3 separate regions of the Homo sapiens genome follow, and all the other regions are reported to be linked to region 1. The links are microRNA targets in miRTarBase. Many come from high-throughput screens and were not tested one by one. Region 1 holds a microRNA gene; each other region holds the end of a gene's coding sequence.
What was found. Region 1 holds the annotated microRNA hsa-miR-518a-5p (CUGCAAAGGGAAGCCCUUUC, at 1,637-1,656, shown strand). A microRNA usually pairs through its seed, bases 2 to 8, with sites in the 3' UTR of a target mRNA and lowers its output. Matches are read on the target gene's strand: a 7mer-m8 pairs with bases 2 to 8, a 7mer-A1 pairs with bases 2 to 7 and ends in A, and an 8mer does both.

Region 1 (5,929 bases):
ACCTCAGGCTGTGACACTCTAGAGGGAAGCGCTTTCTGTTGTCTGAAAGAAAGGAAAGTGCATCCTTTTAGAGTGTTACTGTTTGAGAAAAGCAACATTGAAGCTGATGCTGATCTTGGTAATAAATTTGCAGCGAATGCTTATAATCAGACTTGGATGATGTTGGGCTTCTGAGTTTTTTTTTGTTTTGTTTTGTTTAGTTTTGGGGTTTTTCTGTTTTTTGTTTTTTGTTTTTTTTTTTTTTGAGGCCGAGTCTTGCTCTTTCGCCCAGGCTGGAGTGCAGTGGCGCTATCTCGGCTCACTGCAAGTTCTGCCTCCCGGGTTCACGCCATTCTCCTGCCTCAGCCTCCTGTGTAGCTGGGACTACAGGTGCCCGCCAGCACACCCGGCTAATTCTTTGTATTTTTAGTAGAGACGGGGTTTCACCGTGTTAGCCAGGATGGTCTCGATCTCCTGACCTCGTGATCCACCCGCCTCAGCCTCCCAAAGTGCTGGGATTACAGGCGTGAGCCACCGCGTCCAGCCTTGTTATTGTTTTTGAGACTGAGTCTTGCTCTGTGGCCCAGGCTGGAGCGCAGTGGCGTGATCTCGGCTCACTGCAACCTCCATCTCCCAGGCTCAAGCAATTCTCCTGCCTCAGCCTCCTGAGTAGCTGGGATTACAGGCCTGTGCCACCATGCCCGGCTAATTATTTGTATTTTTAGTAGAGACAGGGTTTGCACCATGTTGGCCAGGCTGGTCTCGAACTCCTGACCTCAGGTAATCCACCCACGTCGATCTCCCAAAGTGCTGGGATTACAACTGTGAGCCACTGCGCCCGGCCTGTTTTTCTCTACCACAGGGTGTCTGTTGCCCAGGCTGGAGTGCGGTGGCATTTTTAACATAGATCTCTTGGGCTCGAGTGGTCCTTTTTTTTGGTTCAGTCTTGCTTTGTGACCCAGGCTGGAGGGCAGTGGCAGAAACTCTCCTCACTGCAACCTCCGCCTCCTAGGTTCAAGCCATTCTCCTGACTCAGCCTCCTGAGCAGCTGGGATTACCGGTGTGAGCCACCACACCCAGCTAATTTTTGTATTTTTATTTATTTGTTTATTTATTTATTTATTGTTGAGACGGAGTCTTGCTGTGTCTCCCAGGCTGGAGTGCAGTGGCGCGATCGTGGCTTACTGCAACCTCCTCCTCCTTGGTTCAACCAATTCTCCTGCCTCAGCCTCCTGAGAAGCTAGGATTACAGGCATGCACCACCATGCCTGGCTAATTTAGATTCCATTTTGGATGCTCCCATCAGGACTGTGTCCCTGTACTGGAACTCAGGTGAACACTTGGTTCAAAATCCGTCGCTTTTCTCTAGACATCCAGCTCAGTTCTCGGTAAAGATAAGGTATGTGTAGTAGGCATTGCTTTTTCCCTTTAGAGACAAAACTCAGGAGGATTGCCCCTTGGTGAACAAGGCTAACTTGCAGATTCTTTGAAGCAAGGAACTGGAGATGGTCCTTTTAGGGGTTTATGTTCTGGATTCCAGAAAACATGCAAACAGGGCCAATACATGCATCTTTATTTTTGTGTCCGTTTTGACCTGGTCAAGGAAAATTTCAACAAGAAACCCAGAGTGCCGGAGCAAGAAGATCTCAAGCTGTGACTGCAAAGGGAAGCCCTTTCTGTTGTCTAAAAGAAAAGAAAGTGCTTCCCTTTGGTGAATTACGGTTTGAGAAAAGCAACGTTGAAGTTGATGCTGATCTCGGTAATACATTTGCAGAGCATGCTTATCACACTTGGACGGTGGTGGGGTTCTGTTTTGGTTTTGCTTTTTTATTCTAAGACAGGGTCTGTGTTGCCCATGCTGGAGTGCGGTGGCACATCCCACCTAGGTCTCTTGGATTCAAATGGTCCTTTTTGGGGGCAGAGTCTCTCTATCACCGAGGCTGGAGTGCAGTGATCCCATCTTGGCTCACTACAACCTCCGCCTCCCAGGTTCAAGCAATTCTCCTGCTTCGGCCTCCCAAGTAGCTGAGATTTACAGGTGCCCATCCCCACACCTGGATAATATTTGGTTTTATTCATGTATTTATTTATTTTTAAGATGGAGTCTCACTGTCACCCAGACTGGAGGGCAGTGGCACGATCTCGGCTCGCTGCCACCTGCGCTTCCCTGGTTCAAGTAATGCTTCTGCCTTAGCCTCCTGAGTAGCTGGAATTACAGAAGTACACCACCACACCTGGCTACTTTTTATATTTCATTTTTAATACAGACTGGATTTCACCATGTTGGCTAGTATGATATATATTTTGTCATATATTCTTATATATATAATCATATACACACAAAATACTCTTCTGCACACGAAGAGTATTCTTATATCGCTTTGGGTTTTTTTGTTTGTGTGTTTGTTTTGTGTTTGTTTCTTTGTTTTTGAGACAACGTCTGGCTCTGTTGCTCAGGCTAAAGTGTAGTATTGCAAGCTCAGCTCACTGCAACCTCCACCTCCCACCTAAAGTCCCCTGAATTAGTGTCTACAGGCATGCACCACCACACCTGGCTCACTTTTTTTTCTGAGAAGGAATTTTGCTTTTGTCGCTCAGGCTGGAGTGCAATGGGGTGATTTCAGCTCACTGCAACCTCTGACTCCCGGCTTCAAGCAATTCTCCTGCCTCAGCCTCCCAAGTAGCTGGGATTACAGGCATGCACCACCACACCTGGCTAATTTTGTATTTTTAGTAGAGATGGGTTTCACCTTCTTTCTCAGGCTGGTCTTGAACTCCTGACCTCAAGTGATCCACCTGCCTCGACCTCCCAAAGTGCTAGGATTACAGGTGAGAGACATTGCACCTGGCCACCTAACTTTTGTAGTTTTTTTACAGACAGGGCTTCACCATATTGCCCAAGCTGGTCTCCAGCTACTGAGCTCAAGTGATGCTCCTGTCTCGGCCACTGTCCCTCACCCAAACTTGTGTATTTCTTTTCTTTTCTTTTTTTTTTTTTTTTTTTGAGATGGAGTCTGGCTCTGTCACCCAGGCTGGAGTGCAGTGGCACGATCTTGGCTCACTGCAAGCTCCGCCTCCCCAGTTCATGATATTTTTCTGCCTCAGCCTCCCAAGTAGCTGGCACTACAGGCACCCGCCACCACGCCTGGCTAATTTTTTGTATTTTTAGTGAAGACGGGGTTTCACTGGATTAGCCAGGATGGTCTTGATCTCCTGAGCTCGTGATCTGCCTGCCTTGGCCTCCCAAAGTGCTGGGATTACAGGCTTGAGCCACCGCACCCAGCTTTTTTGTTTTTTTGTTTTGTTTTTTTGAGATGGGGTCTCGCTCTGTCACCCAGCCTGGAGTGCAATGGCACGATCTCGGTTCACTGCATCCTACCCCTCCCGGGTTCAAGCGATTCTCCTGCCTCATCCTCCCAAGTAACTGGGATTACAGGTGCCCACCACCGCGCCTGGCTAATTTTTTGTATTTTTAGTAGAGACGGGGTTTCACCGTATTAGCCAGGATGGTCTTGATCTCCTGACCTCGTGATCTCCCTGCCTCAGCCTCCCAAAGTGCTGGGATTACAGGTGTGAGCCACTGCACCCGGCCTTTTTTTTTTTTTTTTTTTTTTTGAGATGGGATCTCGCTCTGTCACCCAGGCTGGAGTGCAACGGCATGATCTCAGCTCACGGCAACCTCCCCCTCCCGGGTTCAGGTGATTCTACTGCCTCAGCCTCCCAAGTAGCTGGGATTACAGGTGCCCACGACCACGCCTGGCTAATTTTTTGTATTTTTAGTAGAGATGGGGTTTCATCAAGGTGGCCAGGCTGGTCTCAAACTCCTGACCTCATGATCTACTGGCCTCGGCCTACCGAAGTGCTGGGATTACAGGCATGAGCCACCGCGCCCAGCTTCTGTATTTCTTTTCAAATTTTATTGAGGATTTTTTATGTCCTAGCCTGTGGTCTATCCTGGAGGATGTTTGTGTGTGAGACAATGTATATTCATCAACATCTTAGATTCCATTTTGATTGCTTCCGTAGAAACTGTGTGTCCTTGTGCTGGAACTCCGGTGAACACCTGGCTCAATATCCATTGCTCTTCTCTAGAAATCCAGCCCAGTTCTCTTGGTTAAATATAAGATATGTGTAGCAGGCATTGCTTTTTCTTTCCAGAGACAAAACTCAGGAGGATTGCCCCTTGATGAACAAAGCTAACCTGCTGATTCTTTGAAGCAAGTAACTGGAGATCCTCCTTTTAGGGGTTTATATTCTGGATTCCAGAAAACATGCAAACAGGGCCAATAAATGCATCTTTATGTTTCTGTCCATTTTAACTTGATCTAGGAAAATTCCAACAAAAAACCCACGGTGCTGGAGCAAGATCTCAGGCTGTGACCTTCTCGAGGAAAGAAGCACTTTCTGTTGTCTGAAAGAAAAGAAAGTGCTTCCTTTCAGAGGGTTACGGTTTGAGAAAAGCAACGTTGAAGTTGACGCTGATCTTGGTAATACATTTGCAGAGCGTGCTGATCATCAGACGTGGATAATGGTGGGGTTTTGTTTTTTATCTAAGACAGGGTGTCTGTTCCCCAGGCTGGAGTGCGGTGGCACTTCCAACTTAGATCTCTTGGGTTCAAGTGGCCCTCTTTTTGGGACAGAGTCTCACTCTGTGGCCCTGGCTGGAGTGCAGTGGCAGGAACTTGGCTCACTGCAATCTCTGCCTCCTGGGTTCAAGCAATTCTCCTGCCTCAGCCTCCGGAGCAGCTGGGGTTACAGGCTGTGCCACCATGCCCAGCTAACTTTTGCATTTTTATTATTGATTTATTGATTTATTTTTGAGACAGGGTCTGGCTCTGTCACCCAGGCTATAGGGCAGTGGTGCGATCTCGGCTCACTGCAACCTCCACCTCCCACCTCAGCCTCCTGAATACCTGTCTCCAGGCATGCACTACCACACCTGCCTAACTTTTGTATTTTTTGTATAGATGAGGTTTCACCATGTTGCCCAGGCTGGTCTCGGACCCTTGAGCTCAATTGCTCCTCCCGCCTGGGCCTCCAAAACTGCTGTGATTAATGGTGTGAGCAAGCGTGCCCTACTCTTGTGTGTTTCTGCTCAAATTTTATGGAGGAGCTTTTACATCCCAGCCTGTGGTCTATCCTGGAGAATGTTTGTGTGTGTGACAATGTATATTCTTCAACATTTTAGATTCCATTTGGATGCTCCCATCCGGACTGTGTGCCCCTGTACTGGAACTCAAGTGAACACTTGGCTCAACATCCATTGCTGTTCTCATGAATTCCAGGCCAATTGTCTTGGTTAAAGACAAGGTATGTGGGCTGGGCGTGGTGGCTCATGCCTGTAATCCCAGCACTTTGGGAGACCGAGGTGGGAGGATCACGAGGTCAGGAGTTCGAGACAAGCCTGACCAACACGGTGAAACCCATCTCTACTAAAAATACAAAAATTAGCTGGGCGTGGTGGCTCCACCAGTAATCTCAGCTACTTGGGAGGCTGAGGCAGGAGAATTGCTTGAACCCAGGAAGCGGAGGTTGCAGTGAGCTGAGATCGCGCCACTGCACTCCAGCCTGGGTGACAGAGCGAGACTTCATCTCAAAAAATAAAAAATAAAAAGGTATGTGTAGTAGGCATTGCTTTTTCTCTTTGTAGATAATACTCAGGAGGACTGCCTCTTGAACAAGGCTAACCTGCTGAGCCTTTGAAGCAAGGAACTGGAGATGGTCCTTTTAGGGGGTTATGTTCTGGATTCCAGAAAACATGCAAATAGGGACAATGAATGCATCTTTATTTTTCTGTCCATTTTAACCTGGTCAAGGAAAATTTCAACAAGAAACCCAGAGTGCTGGAGCAAGAAGATCTCAAGCTGTGAGTCTACAAAGGAAAGCGCTTTCTGTTGTCTGAAAGAAAAGAAATCGCTTCCCTTTGGAGTGTTACGGTTTGAGAAAAGCA
Region 2 (6,664 bases), not on the chromosome of region 1:
AGGTGTGAGCCACCGCACCCAGACAGCATTCAGTTTTAAATGGGAAGCAGAGCATAAAAGTTTGGGAAGCTTGCAGCCTGACAATGTGATAGAAAAGAAAATCCCATTTTCTGAGGAGAAATTCAGGCTGGCTGCAGAAATTTGCGTAACGAGGAGCTGCATGTTAATCACCAAGACAATAGGGAAAATGTCTCCAGGACATGTCAGAGACCTTTGTGGCAGTCCCTCCCATAACAGGCCCTCAGGTTTAGGAGGAAAAAATGGTTTCATGGGCTGGGCCCAGGGTCCCTGTGCTGTATGCAGTCTAGGGACTTGATGCCCTGCATCTCAGCTGCTCCAGCGATGACTAAAAGGGGCCAAGGCACAGCTTGGGCTATTGCTTCAGATGGTGGAAGCCCCAAGCCTTGGCAGCTTCTATGTTGTGTGGATTCAAAGCCTGGTCATATGGTTTGGCTGTGTCCCCACCCAGATCTCATCTTGAATTCCCACATGTTCAAGAATTGAGGTTAGGGAACCTCTGCGTAGATTTCAGAGGATGTATGAAAATGCCTGGATGCCCAGGCAGAAGTTTGCTGCAGGGGCAGGTCCCTCATGGAGAACCTCTGCTAGGGCAGTGCAGAAGGCAAATGTGGGGTGGGAGCCTCAACAGAGTCCCTACCGGGTCACCACCTAGTGGAGCTGTAAGAAGAGGGCTACCGTCCTCCAGACTCCAGAATGGTAGATCCACCGATAGCTTGCACATGGAGAAGCCACAGACATTCAACGCCAGCTAGTGAAAGCAGCCAGATGGGGGACCGCAAAGCCACAGGGGTGAAACTACCCAAGGCCATGGGAGCCCATCTCGTGCATCAATGTGACCTCGGTGTGAGACATGGAGTCAAGGGAGACAATTTTGGAGATTTAAGATTTGACTGCCCACTAGATTTCAGACTTGCATGGGGCCTGTCACCCCTTTGTTTTGGCCAATTTCTCCCATTTGGAATGGCTGTATTTACCCAATGCCTGTATCTCCATTGCATCTAGGAAGTAACTAACTTGATTTTGATTTTACAGGCTCATAGGAGGAAGGGACTTGCCTTGTCTCGGATGAGACTTTGGACTGTGGACTTTTGAGTTAATGCTGAAATAAGACTTTGGGGGACTACTGGGAAGGCATGATTGGTTTTGAAATGTGAGGACATGCGATTTGGGAGAGGCCAGGGCGGAATGATATTGTTTGGATGGGTCTCCACCCAAATCTCATCTTGAATTCTCACGTGTTGTGGGAGGGACTTGGTGGGAGGTAATTGAATCATGGGGGCAGGTCTTTTCCATGCTGTTCTCGTGGTAGTGAATAAGTCTCACGAGATCTGATGGTTTTATAAGGGGGAGTTTCCCTGCACAAACTCTCTTCTCTTGTCTGCTGCCATGTGAGACGGGCTTTTCACCTTCACCTTTCACCACGGGCTTTTCACCTTCACCTTTCACCATGATTGTGAGGCCTCCCCAGCCACGTGGAACTGTAAGTACAATAAACTTCTTTCTTTTGGAAATTGCCCAGTCTCAGGTATGTCTTTATCAGCAGCATGAAAACTATTATACCTGGTTACTTGCCCCTGATGGGTGAGGGCACCACACTCTTCTCTCCATCCTGGCTTCATGCTCATCTTCTTAAAGATACAGTGTTGGCTCCCATGGGCATCTGCAGGAGGTCTCAGGGGATCTCCCACAGGCCTATGATGACCCAGGCAACTGCATTCCTGGTCTACTACTTCCCCTGGGAAGGTGCTTTTATTCCAAACATAAGCCTTGCAAAAAGCAGTAATAAAATCCTGTGCAAAAAGCAGTAATAAAATCCTGTGAACAATCACCATTTAGCAAATTATCTTCCCCTCTGCTTCAAACACACAGGCAGGCCCACTGACCAGAGTGTACATTTTTTCTGTAGCACTTTTTGGTCAAGGGAATGTGGCTGTGCCATAACCTTCTTCTGTGCTTCTTCTCTTCTCTTCTCTTATTCACCAGAGGATCTCTGGTAATCAGCACAGGTCCTGCTTGATACGTTCTGCATAAAAGTTTATTAAATGAACAGGATAGTACCTTAAGACAAAATTGTCCCTCTGAGGCCAGGCATGGTGGCCCATGCCTGTAATCCCAGCACTTTGGGAGGCAAAGGCAGGTGGATCACCTGAAATCAGGAGTTTGAGAGCAGCCTGGCCAACATGGTGAAACTAAAAATACAAAAAAATTAGCCAGGCACAGTGGCGGATGCCTGTAATCCTAGCTGCTTGGGAGGCTGAGGCAGAAGAATCACCTGAACCCAGGAGGTGGAGGTTGCAGTGAGCCGAGATCGCACCATTGCACTCCAGCTTGGACAACAAGAGTGAAACTCCGTCTCAAAAAAAGAAAAAAAATTGTCCCTCTGATATGGTTTGGCTGTGTCCCCACCCAAATCTCATCTTGAATTGTAGCTCCCAAGATTCCCACGTGTCATGGGAGGGACCTGGTGCGAGGTAATTACGTCATGGGGGCAAGTCTTTCCTATGCTGTTCTTATGACAGTGAATAAGTCTCATGAGATCTGATGGTTTTATAAAGGGGAGTTCCCCTGCACATGCTCTCTTGCCTGCCGCCATGTAAGACATCACTTTGCTCTTCCTTCATCTTCCACCATGATTGTGAGGCCTCTCCTGCCATGTGGAACTATGAGTCCATTAAACCTCTTTCCTTTATAAATTACCCAGTTTCGAGTATGTCTTTATTAGCAGCATGAGAATAGACTAATGCAACCTCTCTCCTTTTCCTTTCTCCATATGTCCCATGAGAGTATAAGCTAAAATAATTAGGGAAAAGGTGAAGTGTGGTAAATATAATATTTTTCTAAGAAGTAACGGCACTAGAAGACAAGCATGATTAATGTCCTTTTGACAATTATCACAAAATAAAAAACAAGAAACACCACAATACAAATATAATTGGGTTTTCAAAGAAACCAAGTTACATGCATACATAGCCACACACTTCATCTGAGAACCTTGGCACCGTTTCTTTTTATTATAGCTAGACACAAGATGCCCAAAGATATACAAAACAAACAATACAAATTTTAAACACTTTTACAAAGGTGACAATATAAAGAAATGAAGACTATGGATTTATGTTTGCAAACATTAATTTCCTTTGAATACTGTCTGGTGTTAAAACCTAACAGTTTACCAGAATTTGTATTTGACACAACTATTTTTAAAATTATAGTGGACAAAACTAATGAAATTCTAATCATCAATAGCCTATGACAAATAACTATTATAATTAAAATTAATACAATCTTCAACTATTCTCCTAAGTACTGTTGCTATAATTTTCTGTTTATTAAAACTTTTTATTTTAGGGAAAAAAACTGACCTTACTGCTATTCCTGGAAAAAGAATTAATAAACTTTCATTAAATATTCAATCTCAACTTTTAAAACTTAAAGCTCTTTATTTCTGCTAATCTGAAACTACTTTTGGTTCACTGCTAACTTTTAAAATATCTTAATCAATGTGATTTAAGGTCATTTTGTCTGCAGAGTGCTCATGTTTTTCATCCTTATACCAAAGCAGTAAGGCAAAAAAGCAGTTCCTTTTCCAAATCAGACAAAGAGAAAATTTCATCCATTTTAAAAGTCAGGAACTAGAACTGCTGCAAATGATCCGACCAACAGGAAATTAAGGCTGCTGTGATTTTCCTTTATATTTAAATCATAAAGTAAGATTAGCAGTGCTATTCCCTGTGAAAGTTGAATTTATAACCTTTGGGCTTGAATCACAGGACATAAATATTGCCATTTCTGTTTATACTTCTAAGACACTGTTTTCACAATCACTTTTGATAAGTTTTTAGATGCAATTAGAAAACACTACACAATGCTGAGAAAGTGCACAACTCTGCTACAACGAGATACATGCTAGAGGTGTAAGAGCAGATTCTAGTGTTCGGTGAGCATTGGCACAGTCTGCCCCAGCCTGGCACACAGATGTACAGGATACACACTACCCAGCATGGCACGTAGTTGGGGAGCAGGGGCTAAGGCCTTTCAATGCTCCAAAGTGTCTGGCCCTTTACTGCTAAAAGCAAGATTCATGGTTTTGCAAGAACCTTTGGGCACCAGCTAGAGTATATCCTGTTTGCTGCAACATTCTTCTTTGAGGCAAGTCCTTCTAGATATGTGAAAGAGAAAAATCATGTAACCTCTCCTATAAAAGATTTCCCAAAATCATTTTCTAGCATGAATGTGAACCAGGCTTCACAGTATATATCTACCAGTATTAGCACCATTATTTAAGCCTGCACTGAGGTAAAGATAAACTCTCAGACAGCTTTGGGTAGAAATTCCAGCAGCAATCTTGAGTGGGGTGTTTACAGCAGCATTCTTTCTGATCATTAAGTTGTATGAAGAACCATTTGAATCCAGGTATATATATACAAGTATATACTGAAGCTGATGATAAAATACAAAGCTAGGCTAGCAGGAGAAATACAGCAAAACAGAACTCTCATTTTAAAATTTAAACTATGTCATTACTGGGTTGATGAAGTCAAAGATTTGATAAAATATACTGAACCAATAGCACAAAGCTGGCTTTATAAACCATCAATACCCAGAAATTTCTTTTTTCAGAGCATGGTCAAGTTTACTGCAGGTGCTACCCATCAACATCCAGAACCTACGTTTAACCAGGTCAGTCTATTTGTCCTCTGCTTGTTACATATTCTGTTTCATAAAAAAGGTGAGTAGCCCTTCCCCAATTATTTTGTATTTGTGTAGGAAAACCTCTCTGGAATTTGTACTTATTTTTATAAAGGATGCAGTGGAAAAGACGTTAAAACTCTGTAAAAAATTTAAAAGGGTACAATATGTTTCAGCAAATGAAAACATAGTTAAGAGATAACCGGACAAAAAGAGGTGATTCTCTAATTTAGTTCCTATAAGCTGATAAGGTGAAACAATAATGTTAAAATAAAACACTTAATGAAAAATTTTCAAATTGCTTTTCCTCTCCCTTTAAAATCCCTCAACATATAAAAGAAATAAGAAAGCTGAGATATATAGCTAGCTTTTTGGAGCAACACAAAACTAATTTTTCAAAGGAGAATAATTACCATTATTTATCAAATAAAATATAACTTTGGAGTCTGAACAGCAATGGAATTCAGCCAGTCTCCAGTTGGAGCTGACCTCCATATTTAGGCAGAAGCACTAGGCCAGTGCTTACTGCTCAGGCAGAAATTTATCATGCAATTTGACCAAGAGTCTTCAAAAATGCTCAGCAGTAGTATTTTCATCTGACTCTGTCGAGATTCAGAAAATAGGAATAACTTCCCCCTGCAACCTATAGAAACATTTTAGGGAAATAGTTTAAGATCTGTACTTAACCTAAAAATTCCGCTGAATACTGAAGACCCTTCTTCAGAAAACACAAGTAGTCTTTCTTCTTTTATAAATCTTCTGGTGCTAACTGCACCTAACTGGTAATATACATGGAGGCATAGCTTAGCTATGTTTGCCAGAACGCTAATTACTATATAAGATCTTTCAGTTCCCTGTCAGTCAGTTCATTCACTTCCATGATCTTCTCTAAGTGTTCCATATATCGGCCATGGTCCTGCAGGAAATGAGGGACCCTCATGTTTTCGGTAACTGCCAATCCTTTTAAGCGATCCACATCTTCATAAGAAACCTGAAAAAAAGGAAGATGAGTTAAATTAAAAATGTAACTACAATGTACATTTTAAGGATGAATTTCTTCCCTGGGCCTTAAATGAAAGTATACAGATCATTTGTCAAATTATTTTAATAGCTGCAAAGTAACAAAAATCAGTGACTTACATTTTCTTCACTGTGTTAAATAATAATGTATTTCTCTGCCCCTTATACCATGACCATATTAAAAGAGTATTATTATTATTTTTTTCCTGAGATGGAGTTTCATTCTTGTTGCCCAGGCTGGAGTGCAGTGGCGTGATCTTGGCTCACTGCAACCTCCACCTCCCGGGTTCAGGTGATTCTCCTGCCTCAGCCTCCTGAGTAGCTGGGATTACAGGCGCCCGCCACCACACCTGGCTAATTTTTTGTATTTTTAGTAGAGATGATGTTTCATTAGCCAGGCTGGTCTCGAACTCCTGACCTCAGGTGATCCACCCACCTTGGCCTCCCAAAGTGCTGGGATTACAGGCGTGAGCCACCGTGCCCAGCCTAAAAGATTATTTTAAAAAGTCAAATTTGATTTAATACTCTACCTTGAACCTACTCAGTTTGTCTAAAAATTAGACAGCCATACTTAATATATTTGTGTGTGAGAGAGACTCTAAAACCAAACAAGTCTTCTGGCTAAATCGAAATAAAAGAATCAAAATAACTAGAATATAAATGACATATTATTAAATTAGAAAAATTAGCACAATTATACAGGGTGAGCATCCCAAATCCAAAAATGCAAAATCTGAAATGCTGCAAACTTTTGGAGCACCCACGTGATGCTCACAGAAAATACTCATTGGAGCATGTGGAATTTCCAATTTGGGGATTTCGGATGCTCAACTAGTAAAGAATGTAAATACTCCAAAATTCAAAAAAATCCAAAATCCAAAACACTTCTAGTCCCAAGCATTTTAGAGAAGAGATACTCAATCCATATATTAAG
Region 3 (6,664 bases), not on the chromosome of region 1:
ACAAAAATGTCTGCCTTTGCCTTACCCAGACCAGGAGTAGACATAGAAAGAGCAAAGCTGGTTGGTGATTGTATTATACATTCAGCCAGAGGACAAAGGCCTTAAAGGCTTACTTAGTCCTAACCATTGAGCTTTTCTCCTTACATTGACTAAGGTAAAATATGCCAGCAATGAAGGAATTGCTTCATGAATAGTAACCCTGACAATGTGATCCCGTCTCATTTCCCTATTTCTAAGCCCATCTGAGAAATTGGTCTGGAAATATACTGAGGGGCCTGAATATCAACCACTTATACCAGTCCTGATTAAAAAAGGTTATAGTGCCAGGGAAACACTTAAAGAAGGTTTTTGTGGGATGGAGAAAGCCAGTTTTCATCTAAGTGCATGCACAATATAAAAGAAAATAGGCTGGGCGAGGTGGCTCATGCCTGTAATCCCAGCACTTTGGGAGGCCGAGGTGGGTGGACTGCTTGAGCTCAGGAGTGTGAGGCTGCAGTGAGCCATGTTTGCACCACTGCATTCTAGCCTGGGCAAAAAAGTGAGACCCTCTCTCAAAAAAAAAAAAAAAAAAAAAAAAAAAACCACACACAAAAAAAGAGAAAAGAGAGAAAGAAAAAGAGAAAGAAGGAAAGTAAAGAAAGAAAAAGGAAAGTGGGGAAGGAGGGAGGGAGGCAGGCAGGCAGGCAGGCAAAGGGCAGGGGAAGGGAGGGAAAGGAAGAGAAAGAAAGGGAAAGGAAGGGAAGAAAAGGAAAATAGAAGGGACTAGCTCCAGGAGTGCCCCAAAGGAAGTCTATTTCCTCTTGCTGGATGTATAGTGCAAATAGTTTGCTACCTTCAGTTATTTTCATATTAAAAATCTGCTTTCTTGGCTGGGTGTGGTGGCTCATGCCTGTAATCCCAGCACTTTGGGAGGCCAAGGTGGGCAGATCACCTGAAGTCAGGAGTTCAAGACCAGCCTGGACAACATGGTGAAACCGTCTCTACTAAAAATACAAAAATTAGCCAGGCGTGGGTGGCATGTGCCTATAATCTCAGCTACTCAGGAGGCTGAGGCAGGAAAATCACTTAAACTTGGGAGGTGGAGGTTGCAGTGAGCCAAGATCGCACCACTACACTCCAACCTGGGCGACAGTGAGACTCTGTCTCCAAACAACAACAACAAAAAACAAACCTGCTTTCTCCTGCCTAACATCACTCACCAAAATAACCCATCACTTGAAATAGTGTTTCATAAAGGGAAAATGAGGAAATCAAAAGGAGATGGATTCCTAACACTAGTTACAGTTTTCTGTAGGAGTAATAAAAATGCTTACTCCTGATTTGGAAGGAAGGAAAGATGTGTTTATAATCCTGAAGACCTGGGAATGAGAAGAGAGTTTTTTTTGTTTTTTTTTTAAGACTGAGTTTTGCTCTTGTCGCCCAGGCTGGAGTGCAATGGCGCGATCTCGGCTCACCACAACCTCCGCCTCCCGGATTCAAGCGATTCTCCTGCCTCAGCCTCCTGAGTAGCTGGGATTACAGACATGTGCCACCATGCCCGGCTAATTTTGTGTTTTTAGTAGACACGAGGTTCCTCCATGTTGGTCAGGCTGGTCTTGAACTCCTGACCTCAGGTGATCCGCCCACCTTGGCATCCCAAAATGCTGGGATTACAGGCATGAGCCACAGGGCCCAGCTGAGAGTTCTCCTCTTCAAAACTTACCCTGGGTAGTTAAGGGGTGCCATACAGCACACAGAGACAAAGCCAGAGTTTCACCTTAATTACAGACAAGGGACAGTTTATAGGCATTCCAGCCATAATTTAGAAATAATCCATTTCTCCTGACAAGCTACCCAGGTCTCAAAATAACTTGTTGAAACAAAGAGGAATGATTCAGAAAGCAGAGTATTTTAGCAGTTGGAAGTGGAAAAAGAAGGCCTCTATTGCTAGGTTAGTGTAGAGAAAGGGTCTCTCTCTGACAACTACCTTTTCCTTCTCTTCACAGACCTTCCTAACTTCTCTCTCCCCACCCCTACCGCCCTCCTTCCAAGTCTCTGTACTACTCAAAGTGCATAAACTCGCAGGACAATGATACCTTTGACTACTGATTCGCCAATAGCAAAGCATATAAGTATCTGAAGTGACTTCATTTTACCAAAAGACACTGCCCCAGCTTTAACTTGACAAAGTACTTTGGGCTATTAAGAAGCAAACAAAAGGAAACCATACACTTGACGTTCTCCTGTAACTTTTCCAAGATAATCAAGGTTGCTACAGACTGGATTTTACATACGACAAAGTCATAGAAACTTCTGTGAAGAGCAATGTGGTCCAGATGAAAACAACCCTGAGGGATTTTTTGTTGTTGTTGTTGTTTTTGGTGAGTGGGAAAGGTGGCTTCTCTCACTGGGCTTTCTTTCTGGCCAGGCACATATACACAGACTGGACCAAAGAAGCTTCATACTCAAATGGGCAAGACCAAACCCCATTCAAGGGCCTAATGTTGTTTGTGACCATCCAAACCCCTTCAATTGGCACCTGCACACCTGGAGGATGGCTTTCATTTGGCACTTAAAAATACTTAAGAACACTCTTGTGAAAATATCCATATTATGATCTAATAAATGGTAATAAGCTGGCTGCTCTCTAAGATGACAGGCAAATACAGAATGAGCTTTCAGGATCTGTGCAACTGACCCACGGTCAACAGTATGTAGTTAATAGCAAGCCAATAATTGATGGAAGGCTGGGTATGGTGGCTGTCTCTAGTCCCAGCACTTTGGGAGGCTGAGACAAGAGGATCACTTGAGCCTAGGAGTTCAGGACCAGCTTGGGCAACATAGTGAGACTCCTGTCTCTAAAAAAAATTTAAAAATTAGCCAGGTGTGGTGGCATGTACCATAAGTCCCAGCAACTTGGGAGGTTGAGGTAGGGGGATTGTTCGAGCCTAGAAGGTTGAGGCTGCAGTGAGCTGTGCTGTCATGACTCCGACTGCACTCCAGCTTAGGCAAGAGAATGAGACCCTGTCCCTCTCTTAAAAAAAAAAAAAAAAAAAAAAAAAGATGAAGTCCCACTTGCCCATAATACTGAGAATACAGGGTGATTTTAGGCTTAAGCTAAATTCTAACTCCTTTCCCCACAACTGTTAACAGTTAAGCCTTTTCTGCAAAGTCAAGGATGCTAATAAGAGATGCTTGAAATGCTTATAAGAGAACTGTAAGAGGTTTTGGGTTTTATCACACAAGTTCCAAGGTGGAGGAGCAGTGACAGTGAGAGATAAGACAAGGTGAACAAGTTTAAAACCAAAAGCAGTGGACATTTATTCCTTAACTTTTGTGCAAGAGTGTAAAGATGCATTTGAAAGAACCTGATGGCTAGAGCATCAGCCATGGCTTTCAGGTTGGCCTAGTTTACAATTAGGAAAAGAAGGGGGGAAAAAAGGTAACTTGCCTAGTTCACATGAATGATGTTTCTGGCAAACACAGTTGTTTACAAGTTTCAAGCTATATTTTACTAGGGTCAAGGGAAGACTTCAAAAAGCCACATACAGTACAATTTAAAATTGTGTGAACATCCTGCAAATGTTAGTGCAAAGTAATTATGTAGACTCTCCAAACAAGACTGTGCTCTTGTTTCCCAGGTTTGGTCAATGTTGCTCTTTTATAATTACAATCACAGAAGCTTAACTTACCAAATAGCAATGCCTCTGTGTTTTATGTCCTATGTACCAAGGGAATGTCACAAGGTTTTGATGAAATGCAGCTTAGTTTCATTAATAAAGCAAATTTCTTATTGAATTTAACAATCAAGTTCCTGGAATGCTGCATGTGTTGTTTCATGGAAATGCTCTTAAGCTTATGCCTCTAACTTGTTCAATAAAATTACTCGTAAGATATCCTTTTTACAATGTAACTGGAATTGTTTCATGATCTTAAAATGCAACCAGTATAAATGAACATTTCAGAAGTGGGAGAAAATCCACCACTAATCTCAGCTAGACAAACTTCTTAAAAATGAAAAAGCCTATTCACACAAAATTATATGTAATGACTGTAGTAACCAGTTTATTACACAGATTAATCATTCTTGAAAGTACAAGCTCCAGAGGAGCAATTGGGTCTTTAAATATACACAAGTATTTCCATCAAATGAATTTTCACCCTTACATCCAAATAGACCTAAGCGGTTAAAAACATAAGAAAAATAAGAGCTATTAGCTATGTATTAACTGAGAAACCACATACAAACCAAAGAATATGGAAGAGAGAAAGAAGGGCTGAAAGGCCAAAGGTTGAAGGGGTAGGGAGATGTAAAAGAGTTGGGAACAAAGCCCATCACACTTGATGTACTAATAGCTCCAATCCATTTAAATGTTGACCAGTTAAACTTAGACCTTAAAATGCAGGATGTGGGTAGAGTTTAATCTGGTTGGTCATAACTTTCACCTAAGACGTAGCTCCTTCGGAATAAAATGAATACAGACACAGCTTCATGTTCTTCACCTTGCTTTTCATAACTGTTTTGAGTTTAAATGGATTCCACTTAAAAATAATCTCCTATAGGTGAGTGGAGCCTTTTCTTTCCCATCCAAGCACACACCATACCCACCACCCCCCTCACACCTTGCTGTTATCCAAATTTAAGTCAATAAGAAAAGCTTTTAGTCTCACACCTAGGTAATGCCTGTAGAACTGGCTTGTCACACACACACTTCTCTGCTAGGAGGCAATGTTGGTACAGAAGTACAGTATTTCTAGTTTGTTGTTCCAAGTATGTACAACACGCAGCACTGCTGTATCAGGTAAACATGTGCACAGGGGAAGATGAGGCGTGGGCTCATAGAAAGCAGTCAAATGGAAATCAAAAGGACTTTCTCTTTCAGAGTTCCCCTATCTTTATTTGTAGAGGTTATCCAATAATTTCTTTAATTACATCGCATACTTCTGAGTCCATTCCCGAGCTATTCTGTTGTACCTGTACACACAAAGAGAAGCTTGGCTTAACATAGGTGTGGAGTCAGTAAGCAACAGATTCCATTCATTATCCCATCAAGTAACTTGAAGAGAGTAGCTTATAGGACATTCAAGGAAAGGCCCCTTTCTATCCCAAATTTCTGATAAGGATTAATTCAATGATAATGGGAAGGAGCTGTAAAATGTGAAAGTCTCCTTTAATTGCTACTTATAGAGGGTTCTGATTAAATTTTAGTATTTGTTGGCATATACCTTATTCCATACTTGATTGGCCTATTTCTACAAAAGATGTCCACTCAATTCATTCATTTAAAGTACTTGAAATTATATGATTCTACATTACATAGTTCTTGAACTCATATACTAATAATGATTAAACCGACAGAAGGCTGGGCATGTTGGCTCACACCTGTAATCCCAGCACTTTGGGAGGCTGAGTCGGGTGGATCACTTGAGCCCAGGCGTTTCACACCAGCCTGGGCAACATGATAAAACCCTGTCTCTACAAAAAAATACAAAAATTAGCAGGGTGTGGTGGCGCATGACTATAGTCCCAGCTACTCAGGAGGCTGAGGTGGGAAGATCGTTTGAGCTCAGGAGGCAGAGGTTGCAGTGAGCTGAGATTGCAATACTGTACCATAGCCTGGGTGACAGAGTGAGGCTCTGTCTCAAAAAAAAAGGGGGAAAAAAAACCAAACTTTCCTTTCATATCAATAAAACAATTGGTTCTGGTAGAACTAATTTCAACAATTTGGTTGACAAAATGAATGGGTTTATTGCTTCAGAAGAACATTTGAATAAAGTAAGCAGAGCAAATGATTCTATAATTCTCCTATTAAAAAACGGGTGCTAGGCCGGGTGTGGTGGCTCACGCCTGTAATCCCAGCACTTTGGGAGGCTGGAGCAGCTGGATCACTTGAGGTCAGGAGTTCCAGACCAGCCTGGCCAACATGGCAAAATCCCGTCTCTACTGAAAACACAAAAATTAGCCAGGCATGGTGATGTGCGCCTGTAATCCCAGCTACTCAGGAGGCTGAGGCACAGGAATCACTTGAGCCTGGGAGGCAGAGGCTGCAGTGAGCCAAGATTGTGCCACTGCATTCCACCTGGGCAACGGAGCAAGACTCTGTCTCAAAAAAAAAAAAATTAGCTGGATGTGATGGCATCTGCCTGTGGTCCCAGCTACTTGGGAAGCTCAGATGGGAGGACTACTTGAGCCTGGGAGGTTGAGGTTACAGTGAGCTGTGATTGTGCCACTGCATTCCAGTCCGGGCAACAGAGCAAGACCCTGCCTCAAAAAAAAAAAAAAAAAAAAAGGGGGGGGGGTGGGGGTGGGTATGCTGGCCTTGCACGGTAACTCATGCCTGTAACAGCAGCACTTTGGGGGGCTGAGGCAGAAGGCCTGCTTGAGGCCAGGAATTAGAGACCAGCCTGTGCAACATAGTGAGATCCTGTCTCTACAAAAAAAAAAAAAAAAAAACAAATTAGCCAGGTGTAGTGGCATGTACTAGCAGTCCCAGCTACTGGGGAGGCTGGAAAGGTGTAGTGGCATGTACTAGCAGTCCCAGCTACTGGGGAGGCTGGGGTGGGAGGATCACTTGAGCCCATGAGTTTGACACTGCAGTGAGCCACGATTGTGCCACTGTACTCCAGTCTGGGCTGAAGAACAAGACCCTGTCTCTGCAAAAAAAAAAGTGGGGGGTTAGAGGGT

Region 2: miRTarBase lists MATCAP2 as a target of hsa-miR-518a-5p. Seed matches in the 3' UTR shown: 7mer-A1 at 3,140-3,146.
Region 3: the mRNA of UBE2D2 is a reported target of hsa-miR-518a-5p. Seed matches in the 3' UTR shown: 7mer-m8 at 3,569-3,575.

The regions. Positions count from the first base shown.
Region 1 is chr19:53,752,395-53,758,323 of GRCh38, forward strand. It overlaps MIR527 (microRNA 527), which reads left to right and starts at 1,624; the gene lies at 1,624-1,708. It overlaps MIR516A1 (microRNA 516a-1), which reads left to right and starts at 4,347; the gene lies at 4,347-4,436. It overlaps LOC124904765 (a long non-coding RNA gene), which reads left to right. Exons shown (of 6, transcript XR_007067334.1): 6 at 1-244. LOC124904766 (a long non-coding RNA gene) reads left to right here and starts at 3,844. Exons shown (of 2, transcript XR_007067335.1): 1 at 3,844-5,289. It also overlaps MIR519A1 and MIR1283-2.
Region 2 is chr7:36,321,218-36,327,881 of GRCh38, forward strand. It overlaps MATCAP2 (microtubule associated tyrosine carboxypeptidase 2), which reads right to left. Exons shown (of 7, transcript NM_001199706.2): 7 at 2,935-5,701. The coding sequence ends at 5,543. Among named protein-coding and RNA genes, the nearest start is that of MATCAP2, 43 kb to the right of the region's middle.
Region 3 is chr5:139,625,046-139,631,709 of GRCh38, reverse strand. It overlaps UBE2D2 (ubiquitin conjugating enzyme E2 D2), which reads right to left. Exons shown (of 7, transcript NM_003339.3): 7 at 3,276-4,954. The coding sequence ends at 4,909. Among named protein-coding and RNA genes, the nearest start is that of CXXC5, 20 kb to the left of the region's middle.